4 linked regions of the Homo sapiens genome follow. The protein of the gene in region 2 purifies or fractionates together with the protein of the main gene of each other region. This does not show direct contact. Each region holds a gene or a part of one and is shown on either strand. Other genes may lie near its edges.

Region 1 (3,500 bases), on a different chromosome or scaffold from region 2:
CTCAGTCTCTCTGGTGGGAGAAGATGAGCGGAAGATGCTGAAGGAGATTGTAAAAGCTGCCAAGGCCCCTGTGAAGGCCAGGATACTTCCCCAAGGTGAGCAGGCACCCCTGTGGCAGTGCAGAATGGCTCGGTGGGCGGGGCAAGGACAGAGTGTAATGGCTGAGAGCAGGTACTTTGCAGTTCAGAGCCAGATTTGAATTCCAGCCCTGCTGCTTCCTTGCCGAGTGACCATGTGCAGGTTTCACCTCACCTCTCTGAGCTTGCCTCCTGTGTGTAGAAGGGAATTATGACAGAATTGTAAACACAGTGCCCCATTTAGGTGGAAATTGAGAAGAGAAGGTTGCTTGGGGCAAAATTCTCACTAAACTCCTCTTTCCCTTACTGTTGGTGGTGGGGAAGAGAGAGATCAGTACTCATTCTTTTTGGGTCCTTTCATTGATTTTGTTCCTCTGATCTGTGGGGGTCTTATAAAGCACATCCTCTTTAAAGTCTTTTTTTGTTTTGTTTTGTTCTTGAATTCCTAGGCTCAAGCAATCCACCCACCTTCTGCCTCCCAAAGTGCCGGGATTAACAGTAATGAGCCACCATGCCCAGCCTTAAAAATTTTTAAAGTTATAAAAATAATACATATTTAGCCTGAGCATGGTAGCTCTTGCCTATAACCCAGCACTTTGGGAGGCCAAGGCAGGAGGATTGCTAGAGGCCAGGAGTTCAAGACCAACCTGAGCAATATAGTGAGCTGCCTGTCTCTAAAAAAAAAAAATTAGCTGGGCATGGTGGTGTGTGCCTGTAGTCCCAGCTATTCAGAAGGCTGAGGCAGGAGATCTCTTAAATCCAGGAGGTTGAGGCTGCAGTGAGCTATGATTGTGCCACTGCACTGCAGCCTGGGCAAAAGTGCAAGACCCTGTCTCTAAAAAATGAAATGAAAAGTACGTATTTATTGTTGGAAATTAGTAAATAAAAAAAAATGTAATTCTGTGTCAAAGAGCTCACCACTGGTAGCATTTAGGTGTATGTCTTTTCAAACCATTTTTCCTTTCTTAAATGTCCCTTTTATTTTTTTCATTTTCATTGTCTTCATTTAATCAGCGACTAGTTATTGAGTCCTGCTGTGGGCCTAGTGCTATTGATTCTGTTCTAGGTGCTGGGGATACAGCAGGGAACAAAGCAGAGCTGTGGTTCTGGGAGAAAGAGACAATAAATAAGCTAACAGTAGATGTGATTGAGAACAGCAGGAGGAGACTGCCTCATTAAGCTGTTAAGGAAAGGCCTCTGCACAGCTGGCATTGGAGCTGAGTCCTGGGTGATCGGAATGAGGCAGCCATGAGAGGTCTGAGGGCAAAGTGCTGAGCTGAGAGAACAAGGGTGGAGGCTGTGAGGTAGGAACGAGCTTAGTGTGTGAGAACAAGAGAAAGGTCAGGAGGCTCAGGCGTGGTGAGCAGGGACACACAGAAGATCAGAGCGGTAGGCAGGGGCCACTCTGAGTCTGGGGGATATGAAGCAGAGAAGGCACACATTACAGACACCATTTCCTATGTCAGTAAATGCACAGCTAAATTATTTTCATCAGTTACACAGTATTAGTAGTCACCCTTATTTTATTTTATTTAATTTATTTTTGAGATGGAGTCTTGCTCTGTTGCCAGGCTGGAGTGCAGTGGTGCGATCTCGGCCCATTGCAACCTCTGCGTCCCGGGTTCAAGTGATCCTCCTGCCTCAGCCTCCCAAGTAGCTGGGACTACAGGTGCATGCCACCACGCCCAGCTAATTTTTATATTTTTAGTACAGGTGGGGTTTCACCATGTTGTCCAGGATGGTCTCGATCTCTTGACCTCGTGATCCACCCGCCTTGGCCTCCCAAAGTGCTGGGATTACAGGCTTGAGCCACTGCCTTATTTTGTTTAAGATAAGGTCTTGCTTTGTTGCCCAGGCTGGGGTACAGGGGTGCGATCATAGCTTACTGTTGCCTCGAACTCCTGGGTTCAAGCAGTTCTTCTCCTCAGCCTCCTGAGTAGGTGGGACTACAGGTGTGTGCCACCATGATGGCTAATTTTTTTTTTTTTTTTAGATGGAGTCTCGCTCTTTTGCCCAGGCTGGAGTGTAGTGGTGTCATCTTGGCTTACTGCAGCCTCCGCCTCGTGGGTTCAAGCAGTTCTCCTGCCTCAGCCTTCTGAGTAGTAGCTGGGATTACAGGCGTGTGCCCCCACACCCAGCTGATTTTTGTATTTTTAATAGAGACGGGGTTTCACAGCATTGGCCAAGCTGGTCTCAAACTCCTGACCTCAGGTGATCCACCTGCCTTGGCCTCCCAAAGCGTGGGATTACAGGCATGAGCCACTGTGCCTGGCTTTTTTTTTTTTTTTTTTTTTTTTTGTAGAGACAGAGTCTGGCCACGTTGCCCAGGCTGGCCTCAAATTCCTGGGCTCAAGCAATCCTCCCACCTCAATCTCCCAGAGTGCCGGGTTACAGGTGTGAGCCACCATGCCTGGCCTACCCTTATTTGTAAATCCTTTTTATTTTCTCCCATTGAGATGTCATCCTCAAATTCCGGGACAAGATTGAGAAAATGGAGAAAGATGTGTATGCAGTTCTGCAGCTAGAGGCGGAGGAAAAAGAGATGCAGCAGTCAGAAGCCCAGGTGAGGCTGCGAGGCGGGATCTTGTTCACAAGGCTGCTCAGTAAGCAAGCTGCTGCATCCCTGCTGGTGCTGCCCTTCTGAAATGTTTCTCCCATCAGAGCCCCAGGCATTTGCAGCCCGTGGCTTCCTGTGTTAGTAGATACGGGTTTCACGGCAGGCATCCTTTTGTTATCTCTACAGATCAATACAGCAAAGCGGCTCCTGGAGAAGGGGAAGGAGGCAGTGGTCCAAGAGCCCGAGAGGAGCTGGTTCCAGACCAAAGAAGAGAGGAAGAAGGAGAAAAGTAAGTCAGGGAGGTTCCGCAGAAATCTAAATACAGAATTACCCCACAGGACTCAGCAGTTCCATTTCCTAGTTCTATACTGTAAAGCAGCGGTCCCCAACCTTTCGGCACCAAGGACCAGTATCGTGGAAGACAATGTTTCCACATTTGGGGTGTGGGGGTTGCATTAGATTCTCATAAGGAGTGCACACCCTAGATCCCTCGCATGCGCACTTCACAATAGGGTTAGTGCTCTTATGAGAATCTAATGCTGCTGCTGATCTGACAGGAGGCCAAGCACAGGTGGCAATGCTTGGTTGCCCAATGCTCACGTCCTGCTGTGCAGCCTGGTTCCTAATACGCCATGGACTGGAACCGGTATGCAGCCTGGGGTTGGGGACCACTGTTGTAAAGGATGTAAACAGGGACTCAAACAGATACTTAGATGCCAGTGCTCTTTGAATTACTGTTCATAATAGCAAAAAGGTGGAAACAAACTATGTTCATCAACAAGTGAATGGATAAACAAAATTTGGGGTGTGTGTTTATATACACACAATGGAATATTATTCAGCCATGAAGTTCTGATACATGCCAT
Region 2 (3,500 bases):
TGGTCAGGCTGGTCTTGAACTCCTGACCTTGTGATGCGCCCACCTTGGCCTCCCAAAGTGCTGGGATTACAGGCGTGAGCAAGGCCTCTGATTTCTAAGAGAAGGGACTTCTATTTGTACTCATGACCTAAGAGTTCAAGAGTTTTACAAATAAATGTTCAGTTCAAAATTCTAAGTTATTGAACCAGATGGAATCATGTTATTAAGAACTCAACAGGAAAATGTAAATAAATTATCTATGTGCTCACTAATGAATTTATGATGAGCTCCAACACACAAAAGACATCAACAGTACCTTGAATGACTCCGGCTTCTGGAGTAGGACCGGCGTCGTCTGGAACCTGGCTTGTCTTCAACTAATCTGATTTTTCTCCCATTGACTTCAGTTCCATCCAACTTTTCCAAAGCTCTTTTCATATCAGAATAAGATACAAATTCAATCACCCCTTCATTTTTGCGTCCCTTGTGAGCATCTGCATAAGTCACTTCTCCTGCCTGACGCATATAATCCTGAAGAAAAAAAAAAGTGTGACTACATTAGGATATGTTTTGCTAAAATATCTAATGCAATCATCTGAGTGAATTTTTCCTTTAAGAAATGCCAGCATTCCGCAGAATAAAGTTTACTCTTAAATATTTTCATCTACCCATCAATCATGTACTGAGGTTCTTTAAAGCACCAGCCATATTAGGTGGGTGGGAGAGACAATAAATACACATTAAATTGTTCCTTTAAATAAAGTTTTGGGGCCAAGTGTGGTGGCTCATGCCTGTAATCCCAGCACTTTGACAAGCTGAGGCGGGAGGATTGCTTGATCCCAGGAATTCAAGACCAGCCTTGACAACACAGAAGACCCTATCTCTACAAAAATTGAAAAAATTAGTCAGGTGTAGTGGCACACGCCTGTGGTCCCAGCTACCCAGTAGGATGAGGTGGGAGGATCATCTGAGCCCAAGGAGGTTGAGGCTGCAGTGAGCCGTGATCATGCCACTGCACTCCAGCCTGGGGTACAGAGCAAGACCCTACCTCAAAACAAAAAAATAAAGTTTTGTGTGAATATAGAAGTTTTCAGTTAGCTATCATCTTCTAAATTTAAAAACAAACAAAAAACAGAGTCTTGCTTTGTCGCTCAGGCAGCTGGAGTGCAGTGATGTGACCTCGGCTCACTGCAACCTCTGCCTCCCAGGTTCAAGTGATTCTGTGCCTCAGCCTCCCCAACAGCTGGAACTGCAGGTCCGCGCCACCATACCCAGCTGATTTTTTGTGTTTTCATTAGAGATGGGGTTTTGCCATATTGCCTAGGCTGGTCTCAAACTCCTGAGCTCAGGCAATCCACCTGCCTCAGCCTCCCAAAGTGCTAGGATTATAGGCATGGGTCACTGTGCCCAGCCCATTTTCTAAATCTTATAGTGACAAATTATTTGTTTATAACCATCATGTCCCTTCAATACCACAGGCCTCTTTCCTCATTCTCTTTGAGGACTTCCTATGGTTCAATGAGAGAATACAACTAATGTCCTAGACAAATGCTAAAGCATTATATAAATAAGAGGAGATATGATTAGGAGGTTGCAGTGAGCCGAGATAGTGTCACTGCACTCCAGCCTGCTGACAGAGCGGGACTCCATCTCAAAAAACAAAACAAAACAGAACAAAAAGAAATTTATTTTTGGCCAGGTGCAGTGGCTCACACCTGTAATCCCAACACCTTGGGAGGCCAAGGCCAGGAGATCACCTGAGGTCAGGAGTTTGTGACCAGCCTGGCAACTTTGTGAAACCTTGTCTCTACTAAAAATACAAAAATCAACCAGACGTGGTGGCAGGCGCTTGTAACCCCAGCTACCTGGGAGGCTGAGGCATGAAAATCGCTTGAACCCAGGAGGTGGAAGTTGCAGTGAGCGAGATTGTGCCACTGCATTCTAGCCCAGGCGACAGAGCAAGACCTTCGTCTCAAAAAAAAAAAAAAATTTATTTTTTAAACTACTAATATCCCCTAATTTGTTTTATTTTTGCATTTCCTTGATAAATAGCTAACATACATTGTGCCAGAAACTGTTCTAGGCTTTTTATATATAAAATTCACTAAATTCTTTCAATAACCTTGAGTAGAAATTAGTATTAACCCCATTTTATAGTTGAGGAATATGAGGCATAAGATGTAAGTAACTTGCTAAGGGTCATGTAAGTGACCTTAGTGGCAGAACCAGGATTCTATTCAGGTTGGCCACCTTGAGAGCTAGGAAATCTGCTCAATTATCTATTACTCTCGTTTCCTGAGAGTGGAACTGCCTGAAGGTACAGACATGTAGAACCAACTAAGGGTGGTAACTGTTGGGGACCAGCCTCAACACCACCCGTAGGGTACCCAAAGTCTGGTGGCGACGAAGGAATGAGAAGAGAGAGGTTAAGAGTGCATAAAGAGTGGGGGCCAGGGGGCCAATTGCAAAATGGAGGCTGCAAAAGGCTCAGAGTTCTGGTCTCCACACTATTTACTGAGTACAATCACTTAGATCTAAGAAGCAGACATTCAGGACGAAACGGTGAAAGGCAGGCAGTGCTGAAAGGAAGGCAGTGCGTCATACACGTAATCTACAGCAGTGGCAGTTTAAATGAATCTCCTTTGTGCTTAGACAGCATATCTTTAACTTATCGGAGAGTAGCTGGTGGGAGCGAGCTTAACTAGGAGCCTGCATGTCTGGCCACATTCCAGTGCTTCAAAGGAGTGTCTTTCTCCTTGAACACAGTGTTTATGGATAAGAGAGCAAGTCTTGCTGAGAGCATGGGAACATAATGGTGATAAGGCTTTCCTCCTCCCACAAGAGGCCTCTTGTGGCTTTGCACAATTTATTGTCCCATATTTTTATGGCCAGTTTATACAGGCACCCCATAAGCCTTTCCCCCAACAGTAACTAAGCTCTGTTCTAACAAAAAAATTAAGAGGTTTTCTAAGAAGTTAATTTAATATTACATTTAGTGGCACTACATGACGAGTTAGCATTCTACTGATGAAGAGAGTAGCTTTCCAGTTTCTACCCATGATGTTCAATCCCTAACTCTCAGAATACTGGAGTCATTCCTTCAGCAAGCAGAATCTTGCTGGCAGACATTCAGTAAAGGTCTGCTACGGTGCTGACGATAAGCATGATGCACCTGAAAAAACAGCAGACTGGGAGTCAGGAGTCCTGGTCCCAGCTCTTCTGCATGTTACTTGAAGGTTGCTGGGATTAAATTTTAAAAAGAAAAACAAAAAAGTGCTTTAAATTAAACTATACAAATGTAAAGGATTCCTAACTATTCTTTCCTGAACCTAAATACACTTCACTCATTTGGCTAGAGATGACTTGTTTAAATATGGCCAAAAAAAGCGAGAAGGGAGACAGAAAACAAAACCTGTTTCATGCATCCTCCTAAGACCATTCAGATTATGATACTGCTCAGTAAGTTTTTCTTCCTATTGAGATTAAAAACACTGTTGTCAATAAGTGGGGCCGGGTGCAGT
Region 3 (4,086 bases), about 28 Mb from region 2:
ATCCCTGAGCTACCAGCCTGGGGAAAGAGGACATGAGTAAAGCTGTAACCATACCGTGTTACCCATAACAGGCGGTGAGGAGAGTGGGTTTTGGTTGGCACTGTTTGAGCTGCAGTATCAAGTCATGGCAGAGCTAGTGGACAGCTGACCTGGGGGTGGGGGTGAGGAGCAATGGTGGCTTCTGAATTTGAGCCCGTCTGAGCTGGGCAGTTACTGGCAGCTCAGTGTGTGAACCTGCAACCACTCAGGCCTCTGCTGCCCTTCCCTCTTCCTGCCTCACCGTTCCCTGCCCCACGCAGGCTTCCCCACCATCCTCACCCGTGGTCCTGTACTAGTCCTGGCAAAGGTTCCGGTAACTGCAGCAACAGATACCTCCTGCCCCTCCTGCACAGCTGTGGTCGATCGCAGGACAGCCGCAGGTGATGAAAAACCGTGAACCCAGGACGGGCAGGGCGTGAGACCGCCTGCGGGAGGATCAGCGATGTCAAGACGTTACAAACGCACGAACCCCCTCGCCGTCTCCCTGGCGTTTGTGAGGTCCTGTCCAAGCTCCTTCACACGTAGATCACCGGGCCTCGCTCCCCCGACTCCTTCCGTGGGCCTGAACCTTGAGGTACTTAGGCCTCCCCACGCTGGAGGGGCTCTGTAGGGACGTCGAGGCCACGTTTCCAGTCATCCCTCCACCCGTCTCTCCCCAGGGGCTGAGTGTTGAAGGCAAGACTTTGCAGGAGTCTGGCGTTAATACGCATCCCCAAAGTCTGGAGTCGATAAGGACTGAAGACACGACGCCGACGGCGGCCGGGGGACACCGGGCATGCGCGTCTCATCCAGGGGGAGGCCGAGCGGAGCCTCTGACCCTGCCCCGCGCCCAGGGTTCAGCAGTGGGGGTCGTCCCGCCCCAGATCCCACCGAGATGGCCCCCCTTGACCCACAGGCCTTTCGAGACGCGAGCTTCCGCGATCCGGGGTCTCTGTGCGAACGTGGGCATCTTGGAAGAGTCCCAGCCCCGCTCGGGGCGCACAGGCAGGCGCTCTCAGCACGGCACCCGCGCCTCCGCTAGGGACAGACATGCTTCCGGGTCGGCCGGCACCGCGGAGTCCCCTGGGTAACGAGCCCGCCCCACCCGCGCCAGGTTCCGGCGTCGGCGTTAGGCGCGTTGCTGACGGGCAGGTTATGTAGCCAATTGCGGCTAGGCGGCGTCGCGCTGGTCGCGGGCCGAACCAATGGCACGCGACGGGGCGGGGCGGTGGCGGCCGTGGAGCTTCGCGAGGAGCCGCCCTGAGGGAAGAAGCCGAAGGGGAGTCGGCGGCACAAAATGGCGGCGGCGGCGGCGGCGGCTGGTGCTGCAGGGTCGGCAGCTCCCGCGGCAGCGGCCGGCGCCCCGGGATCTGGGGGCGCACCCTCAGGGTCGCAGGGGGTGCTGATCGGGGACAGGCTGTACTCCGGGGTGCTCATCACCTTGGAGAACTGCCTCCTGCCTGACGACAAGCTCCGTTTCACGCCGTCCATGTCGAGCGGCCTCGACACCGACACAGAGACCGACCTCCGCGTGGTGGGCTGCGAGCTCATCCAGGCGGCCGGTATCCTGCTCCGCCTGCCGCAGGTGAGGGCGCGGCCGCGAGCCTCCGGCCCAGGTAACCGCTGGGGCGGCAGCCGCCTTTGTTGGCGGCGAGTCGGGCCCGCACCGCCCCCGCCTAGACCCCGACCCCAGCCCCTGCCCCGACCCCAGCCTCGGCGCCATTCCCTAGCCAGCCCATGCCCCTGACCCGGGGCCTCCCCGCCCGCCAGTGCGCTGGATCCCGAGACGGCGGGACGCGAAGAGCCTTTGTGGACGTGGGAAGCGTTTCAGTGTTTGGTTCTGCGTGGGGAGTCCCACGTTACTCGATGACTTTCGGCCGCGAAGGCTTTGAATGGTGCGTTTGAAAATACGGAAACTTTCTTCTACTCTAGGTGGCCATGGCTACCGGGCAGGTGTTGTTCCAGCGGTTCTTTTATACCAAGTCCTTCGTGAAGCACTCCATGGAGGTAAGGCTTCCTCCTGCACTTCATTCCCAGCGAAGTATGTTGAGGGTAAAACGGTTTGTTACTTTGCCCGGTTACTAAGGGAGTGAGTACTTGCCCCCCAGTCTGAGCTCTGTGCCGGAGGGTTCTGTTTCTTGACTTTTTTTTTCCCCTGGGTGCACCTCCCTTTTGGTCTGAATAGCCCTCAAGCCTTTGGCGGCCGTCAGGACGCCGTGGCTGGGGACAAACATGGGCGTGTTGCAATGCTTCCGCTTCAGCATGTGTCAATGGCCTGTGTCCACCTGGCTTCCAAGATAGAAGAGGCCCCAAGACGCATACGGGACGTCATCAATGTGTTTCACCGCCTTCGACAGCTGAGAGACAAAAAGTGAGTCAGTCAGAGCTGTCTAGTCTATCATAGATGCCTATTTTCTTTATTTCTGATTAAGTTACAGTAAGGCTTGTATAACACAATACAGGCCTGAGGCTCTAAACCTGTGGGATATTCATGAGCGCAGTCTCAAGCTCCACCAACAGAGCCTGCTCAGAGGCATCAGTAGATGCGGTTTAGTAAGGGCAGGGGCTCCAGTGAGGACAGTGCGCTGTGGCGGGTCGCGCTGGGGCTGGCTTCCTGCTTTACCCATGTCAGTGCACGGCCCTGCTGCTGCTTCTGTCCCACAAGTTTCTGAGTGCTCTGGAGCAGGGAATCTTAATCTCAGCACTATTGACATTCAGGCTGGATAATCTTTTTTTTCCTCCTGAGACAGGTTTCCTGTTGTCCAGGGCAGAGTGCGGTGGTATGATCATGGCTCACTACAGCCTCAACCTCCTAGGCTCAAGAGTTTCTCCTGCCTCAGCCTCCTGAGTAGCTGGGACTATAGGAGCACGCCAACCATGCCAGCTAATTTTTATTTTTTATTTGGTAAAGATGGGGTCATGCTGTGTTGCCCAGGCTGGTCTCAAATTCCTGGGCTCCAAGGATTTGCTGGCCTTAGCCTCCCAAAGCACTGGGATTACAGATTTCAGCCACCGCATCTGGCTGGGTAATCTTTAGTTGTAGGGGATTCTCCTGTGTGCTGCAGGATTCAGCAACATCCCTGGTCTCGACTCACTGGATGACAGGAGTACCCCACCTTAGATGTGACAGCCAGAAATTCTCTCATACCAGATGTGGGAGCTCACACCTGTCATCTCAGCACTTGGGAGACTGAAAAAGGAGGTTTGCTTGAGGCCAGGAGATTGAGGCTGCAGTGAGCTGTGATGTCACCACTGCACTCCAGCCTGGACAACAGGGTGAGGCCCTGTTTCCAAAAAAAACGAAAGTCTGTTGATGTTGCTTCATGGCCCTGGAATAGTAAAATTTCTCCAGCAGAGAACCGCTGCCTCTGACCTTAGCCCAGGGTTTATGCACCTGAAGTTAATTGAAGTCCTTTAGAAAACACAGCCTCTGGCCGGGCTGGCCTGTAATCCCAGCACGTTGGGAGGCCTAGGCAGGTGGATCACCTAAGGTCAGGAGTTCGAGACCAGCCTAACCAATATGGTGAAACCCTGTCCCTATTAAGAACACAAAAATTGGCCAGGTGCAGTGGCTCACGCCTGTAATCCCAGCACTTTGGGAGGCCGAGGCGGGTGGATCACGAGGTCAGGAGATCGAGACCATCCTGGCTAACACGGTGAAACCCCGTCTACTAAAAATACAAAAAAGTTAGCCAGGCGTGGTGGCGGGTGCCTGTGGTCCCAGCTACTTGGGAGGCTGAGGCAGGAGAATGGCGTGAACCCGGGAGGTGGAGCTTGCAGTGAGCTGAGATCGGGCCACTGCACTCCAGCCTGGGCGACAGAGCAAGACTCCGTCTCAAAAAAAAATAAAAAAAAAATTAGCCGGGTGTGGTTGCGGGTGCCTGTAATCCCAGCTATTCGGGAGGGTGAGGCAGGAGAATCGCTGGAACCGGGGAGTTAGAGGTGCAGTGAGCTGAGATTGTGCCATTGCACTCCAGCCTGGGCAACAAAAGTGAAACTCTGTCTCAAAAAAAAAAAAAAAAAAAAAAAAAACAGCCTTGCCGAGCGCAGTGGCTCACGCCTATAGTC
Region 4 (3,500 bases), on a different chromosome or scaffold from region 2:
TTCTAAATTTACCAGAGACAAATTCCTATATTCTCTTCCTCTGATAATGTCTTTATTTCTCTCTTCATTTCTGAAGGGTAGTTTCATGGGATATAGAATTTGCAACCAACAGTTTTTTTGTTTGTTGGTTTGGTTTTTTTGTTTGTTTCTTTGGTTGGTTTTTTTTAAGCACTTGAAAATGTTGTGCCACTTCCTTCTGGCCTCCATGGCATTTGAGTTGGCATGTCCCTACAGGCATTCTGCCATTTTTGGTCTTTGTTTTTAGTTTTGAAAGTTTAATCAGTGTTGCTTTCTTTTGTTATACTTTGAGGTTTGCTCAGCTTCTTGAATCTGTAAGTTTATATCTTTCACTAAATGTGGGAAGCGTCAGGAATTAGTTATTTGCATGCTTTTGCAGCTCTGGTCTCCTGTGGGACTCAGATAACATAAATGCGGGGTCTTTTGTTATTGTCCCACAGGTCCGTGCAGCTCTGTTCATTTGTTTTCAGGTTATTTTCTCTCTATTGTTTAGACTGGGTGAATTCTGTTGATACAGGTTTCAGCTTCTCTGATTCTCTCCTCTGTCGTCTCCACTTTTACTCAATAGAGCCCATCTAGATAGATTTTTTTTTAATTTCTGTTACTGTATTTTATATTTCTGTAATTTCCATTTGATTCTTCTTCAGTTTCTTTGCTGACGTTTTCAGTTCTTTGTTTGTTGCCATAGGATTTGTAGTTGCTTGTTGAAGCATATTTATGCTGACTGTTATAAGTGATGAGTCAGATGGTTCCAACATCTGCCTATGTAATTTTTTTATTTTTGCAGGCAGTCCTCCTATTTGGGTTTAGTCTGTAGGTCCTGGTCTACTTTGTGGGCTGTGATTCCAATGGCAATTTAATTTCAGAGCCTTCATGGTGTTATTTTGGTCTGTTTGGCTTATATGTATCACTGGGATTCTCCCACCAGTCCCTGCTGTTGCCCACCTGAGGGAACAGGGGAGCTGCCCCAGGCTGGGCCACCTGCTGCAGCTAGGTGGGTGGGGAGTGGTGGTTGTCTTGGTGTGTGGAGCTGGTTTTCTTGTTATGGGGAAGATTTCCTTTGATCTGGGGGGACTGAGTCTGCCTGGGTTGCCTTCTATTGCTACGTTGGGAGTTGGGAAACTCTGGGCCTGGTCAACTTCCTATTGGATGAGGTCCAGGGAGACACCTGGCCACTATGCATTCCCTAGTCCTAGAGTCCCTCAGCAGCCTTTTTCTTTCCACCTTTCAGAATTCTCCTTTGATCATCTCCTGTCTATTATTTCTTAGGAGGGTATAATGTGTTATCTTCTCTAGACCAGAAATCCTTAATGGTGGTTTCAGGTTGTAACTGTGCTAAAGGGAGAATTGGCGTATTTTTGATGTTGAGTCTTTCTTTTCAAATGAGGACATATCATTATTCAGTAGATAATATTTACAACACCTACTTCCTTGGGTTGAAGAATGTGGTTAAGGCAAGGAAAGTACTTAACACAGTGCCTGGTGTGGAGAGCACCGATGAGTGTTGGTGGTGATGCTATTCCTTTTGTCCTTTGGTAGCATATTAAAGCTTTTCTTCTTTTTTAAAAAAATAAAGTTCTGGTGCATTTCTTGTTAGGTTTATTCCTATTTTATCCTTTTTTGCTTTTATTACAAATAGGAGCTTCCTATCTATTATAACTTCTACCTGGTTCTTTGGCCCTTATGTGAAAATGTTTTAATAGCCTTCTAAACATTGCTCTCCCAAATGAGTTTTAACTTGCCTATTTCTTTTATTTTCCTTTTTTTGAGACAGGGTCTCACTCTGTCACCCAGGCTGGAGTTCAGTGATGCAATTATGGCTCACTGCAACGTCTGCCTCCCGGGCCCCCAAAGTGCTGGGTTTACAGGCGTGAGCCACTGCACCCAGCCTTACTTGTCTGTTTCTTTTAAGAGTGGGAACTATAATTGAGCCCAGAGCTCCAAAAACAAATGAAGGAATGAATGAGTGAATAAGCTCTTCCCATGGGTTTGGTGTGGTTTGGGGCTCTACTCTTAATCTAAATGCTATGTTTTATATAACCTAAAATTTCCCCTAGGTGTGTTACACGATTGTGTTGTGTTGAACTTACATTGAGACTCCTTTTCACATGTGCTGGTATCAGCGTGGAGCTTTTCTATTCATTCCTTGAACTATTCGTTTGGGGGACACACATAGACCTCTGTGTCTTTCATAAAGAGTGTCCATTGGCCAGGTGCAGTGGCTCATGGCTGTAATCCCAGCACTTTGGGAGGCTGAGGAGGGCAGATCACGAGGTCAGGAGTTCGAGACCAGCCTGGCCAATTGGTGAAATCCCATCTTTACTAAAAATACAAAAATTAGCCAGGCTTGGTGGCGGGTGCCTATAATCCCAGCTACTCGGGAGACTGAGGCAGTAGAATTGCTTGAACCCGGGAGGCGGAGGTTGCAGTGAGCTGAGATCATGCCACTGCACTCCAGCTTGGGTGACAGAGTGAGACTCTGTCTCCAAAAATAAAAAACAAAAACAAAAGAGTGTCCATTGTGTATACTGGAAAAATTGAGATTGGGATTTTGATGTGAAGTGCGGAAATGTGGATTGGGTCCATTTAGTTTACCTAAACAGATGATGAAATACTAACTGTTTTACAAAGCATTCCCTAGTGCAAAGTTTTGCCTGTGTGTGTAGTGACAGGAACAGTGAGAATGAGGCTTGGAACGCAGAGCACACTGTGGGCCTGTGGTAGGTGGGGCCAGCAGCACATGCATACCTGGCTCACAGAGCAGCCTTTGGGTGTTCTTTTCCCAGAGGAGCTCTACGGTGACTTTGAAGACTTGGAAACAGGGGACGTGCACAAGGGAAAATCAGGCCCCAATACTCAGGTATGACTTTGTCGTAGCTGGCTGTTCTTGGTCATTGTGTTCTGAGAGAGGCCCACATTGAGAAATGCAAATCTTACTTGTGATGTGTGAAGATTGCAGACTGGATAGATAGATTCCTTCCTAAAGGGTGGGGATGTGGGGACCAAAGAGAAGCTTTCTTGTTTACTTGTTAAGTTTTGGATGACAGTTACTACCGTTTCTTGCCATAGTCATTTGCCAAGTCCACTGTGATTTTTCACTCACGGAAGTCTTAGCTTCTTGGACTTACATTCAACCATTGGCATCATTCTCCTTTTTTTAAATTTAAGTGTCATTTAAAAGAATGAAGTCCCTGTTCTCCCTAGTATTTCTTTAGAACAGGGTCTGGGAGCATCTGGGTGAGGGACACGTCTGTTATTTTTATTCTAGTTTGTGTTCCCAGCCAGCTTAAGGATTAGCAGCTAATTGTAATGCAGATGTAACCATTTCCTGTAGCAGTACCATGTTATTCAGAGACAAAGGTTGTGTTGTGTTTTCTTTTGTTTTATTGATAATGATAACAGATTTTTGCTAAGATTCTTGTTTAAATAGAACTTTAAAAAAGCTAATGTTTAAAGAAAAGACCTTCATAAACATACACAAA

What was found. Proteins that work in one complex are often made in the same cells at the same time.
Region 1: the proteins of SRSF4 (region 2) and DDX27 purify together in Homo sapiens (affinity purification with mass spectrometry; one large-scale study listed by BioGRID and IntAct). This does not show direct contact.
Region 3: the proteins of SRSF4 (region 2) and CCNL2 purify together in Homo sapiens (pull-down; one study listed by IntAct). This does not show direct contact.
Region 4: the proteins of SRSF4 (region 2) and BMS1 purify together in Homo sapiens (affinity purification with mass spectrometry; one large-scale study listed by BioGRID and IntAct). This does not show direct contact.

Annotation. Positions count from the first base shown.
Region 1 is NC_000020.11:49,236,416-49,239,915, forward strand, and holds part of DDX27 (probable ATP-dependent RNA helicase DDX27), read left to right. Parts: coding exon 1-95; intron 96-2,533; coding exon 2,534-2,640; intron 2,641-2,820; coding exon 2,821-2,923; intron 2,924-3,500. UniProt on the Homo sapiens protein: Probable ATP-dependent RNA helicase. Component of the nucleolar ribosomal RNA (rRNA) processing machinery that regulates 3' end formation of ribosomal 47S rRNA.
Region 2 is NC_000001.11:29,154,401-29,157,900, forward strand, and holds part of SRSF4 (serine/arginine-rich splicing factor 4), read right to left. Parts: intron 511-3,500; coding exon 296-510; intron 1-295. UniProt on the Homo sapiens protein: Plays a role in alternative splice site selection during pre-mRNA splicing. Represses the splicing of MAPT/Tau exon 10.
Region 3 is NC_000001.11:1,396,536-1,400,621, reverse strand, and holds the start of CCNL2 (cyclin-L2), read left to right. Parts: upstream 1-1,286; 5' UTR 1,287-1,315; coding exon 1,316-1,603; intron 1,604-1,950; coding exon 1,951-2,025; intron 2,026-2,203; coding exon of another isoform or gene 2,204-2,279; coding exon 2,280-2,389; intron 2,390-4,086. UniProt on the Homo sapiens protein: Involved in pre-mRNA splicing. May induce cell death, possibly by acting on the transcription and RNA processing of apoptosis-related factors.
Region 4 is NC_000010.11:42,813,795-42,817,294, forward strand, and holds part of BMS1 (ribosome biogenesis protein BMS1 homolog), read left to right. Parts: intron 1-2,804; coding exon 2,805-2,878; intron 2,879-3,500. UniProt on the Homo sapiens protein: GTPase required for the synthesis of 40S ribosomal subunits and for processing of pre-ribosomal RNA (pre-rRNA) at sites A0, A1, and A2.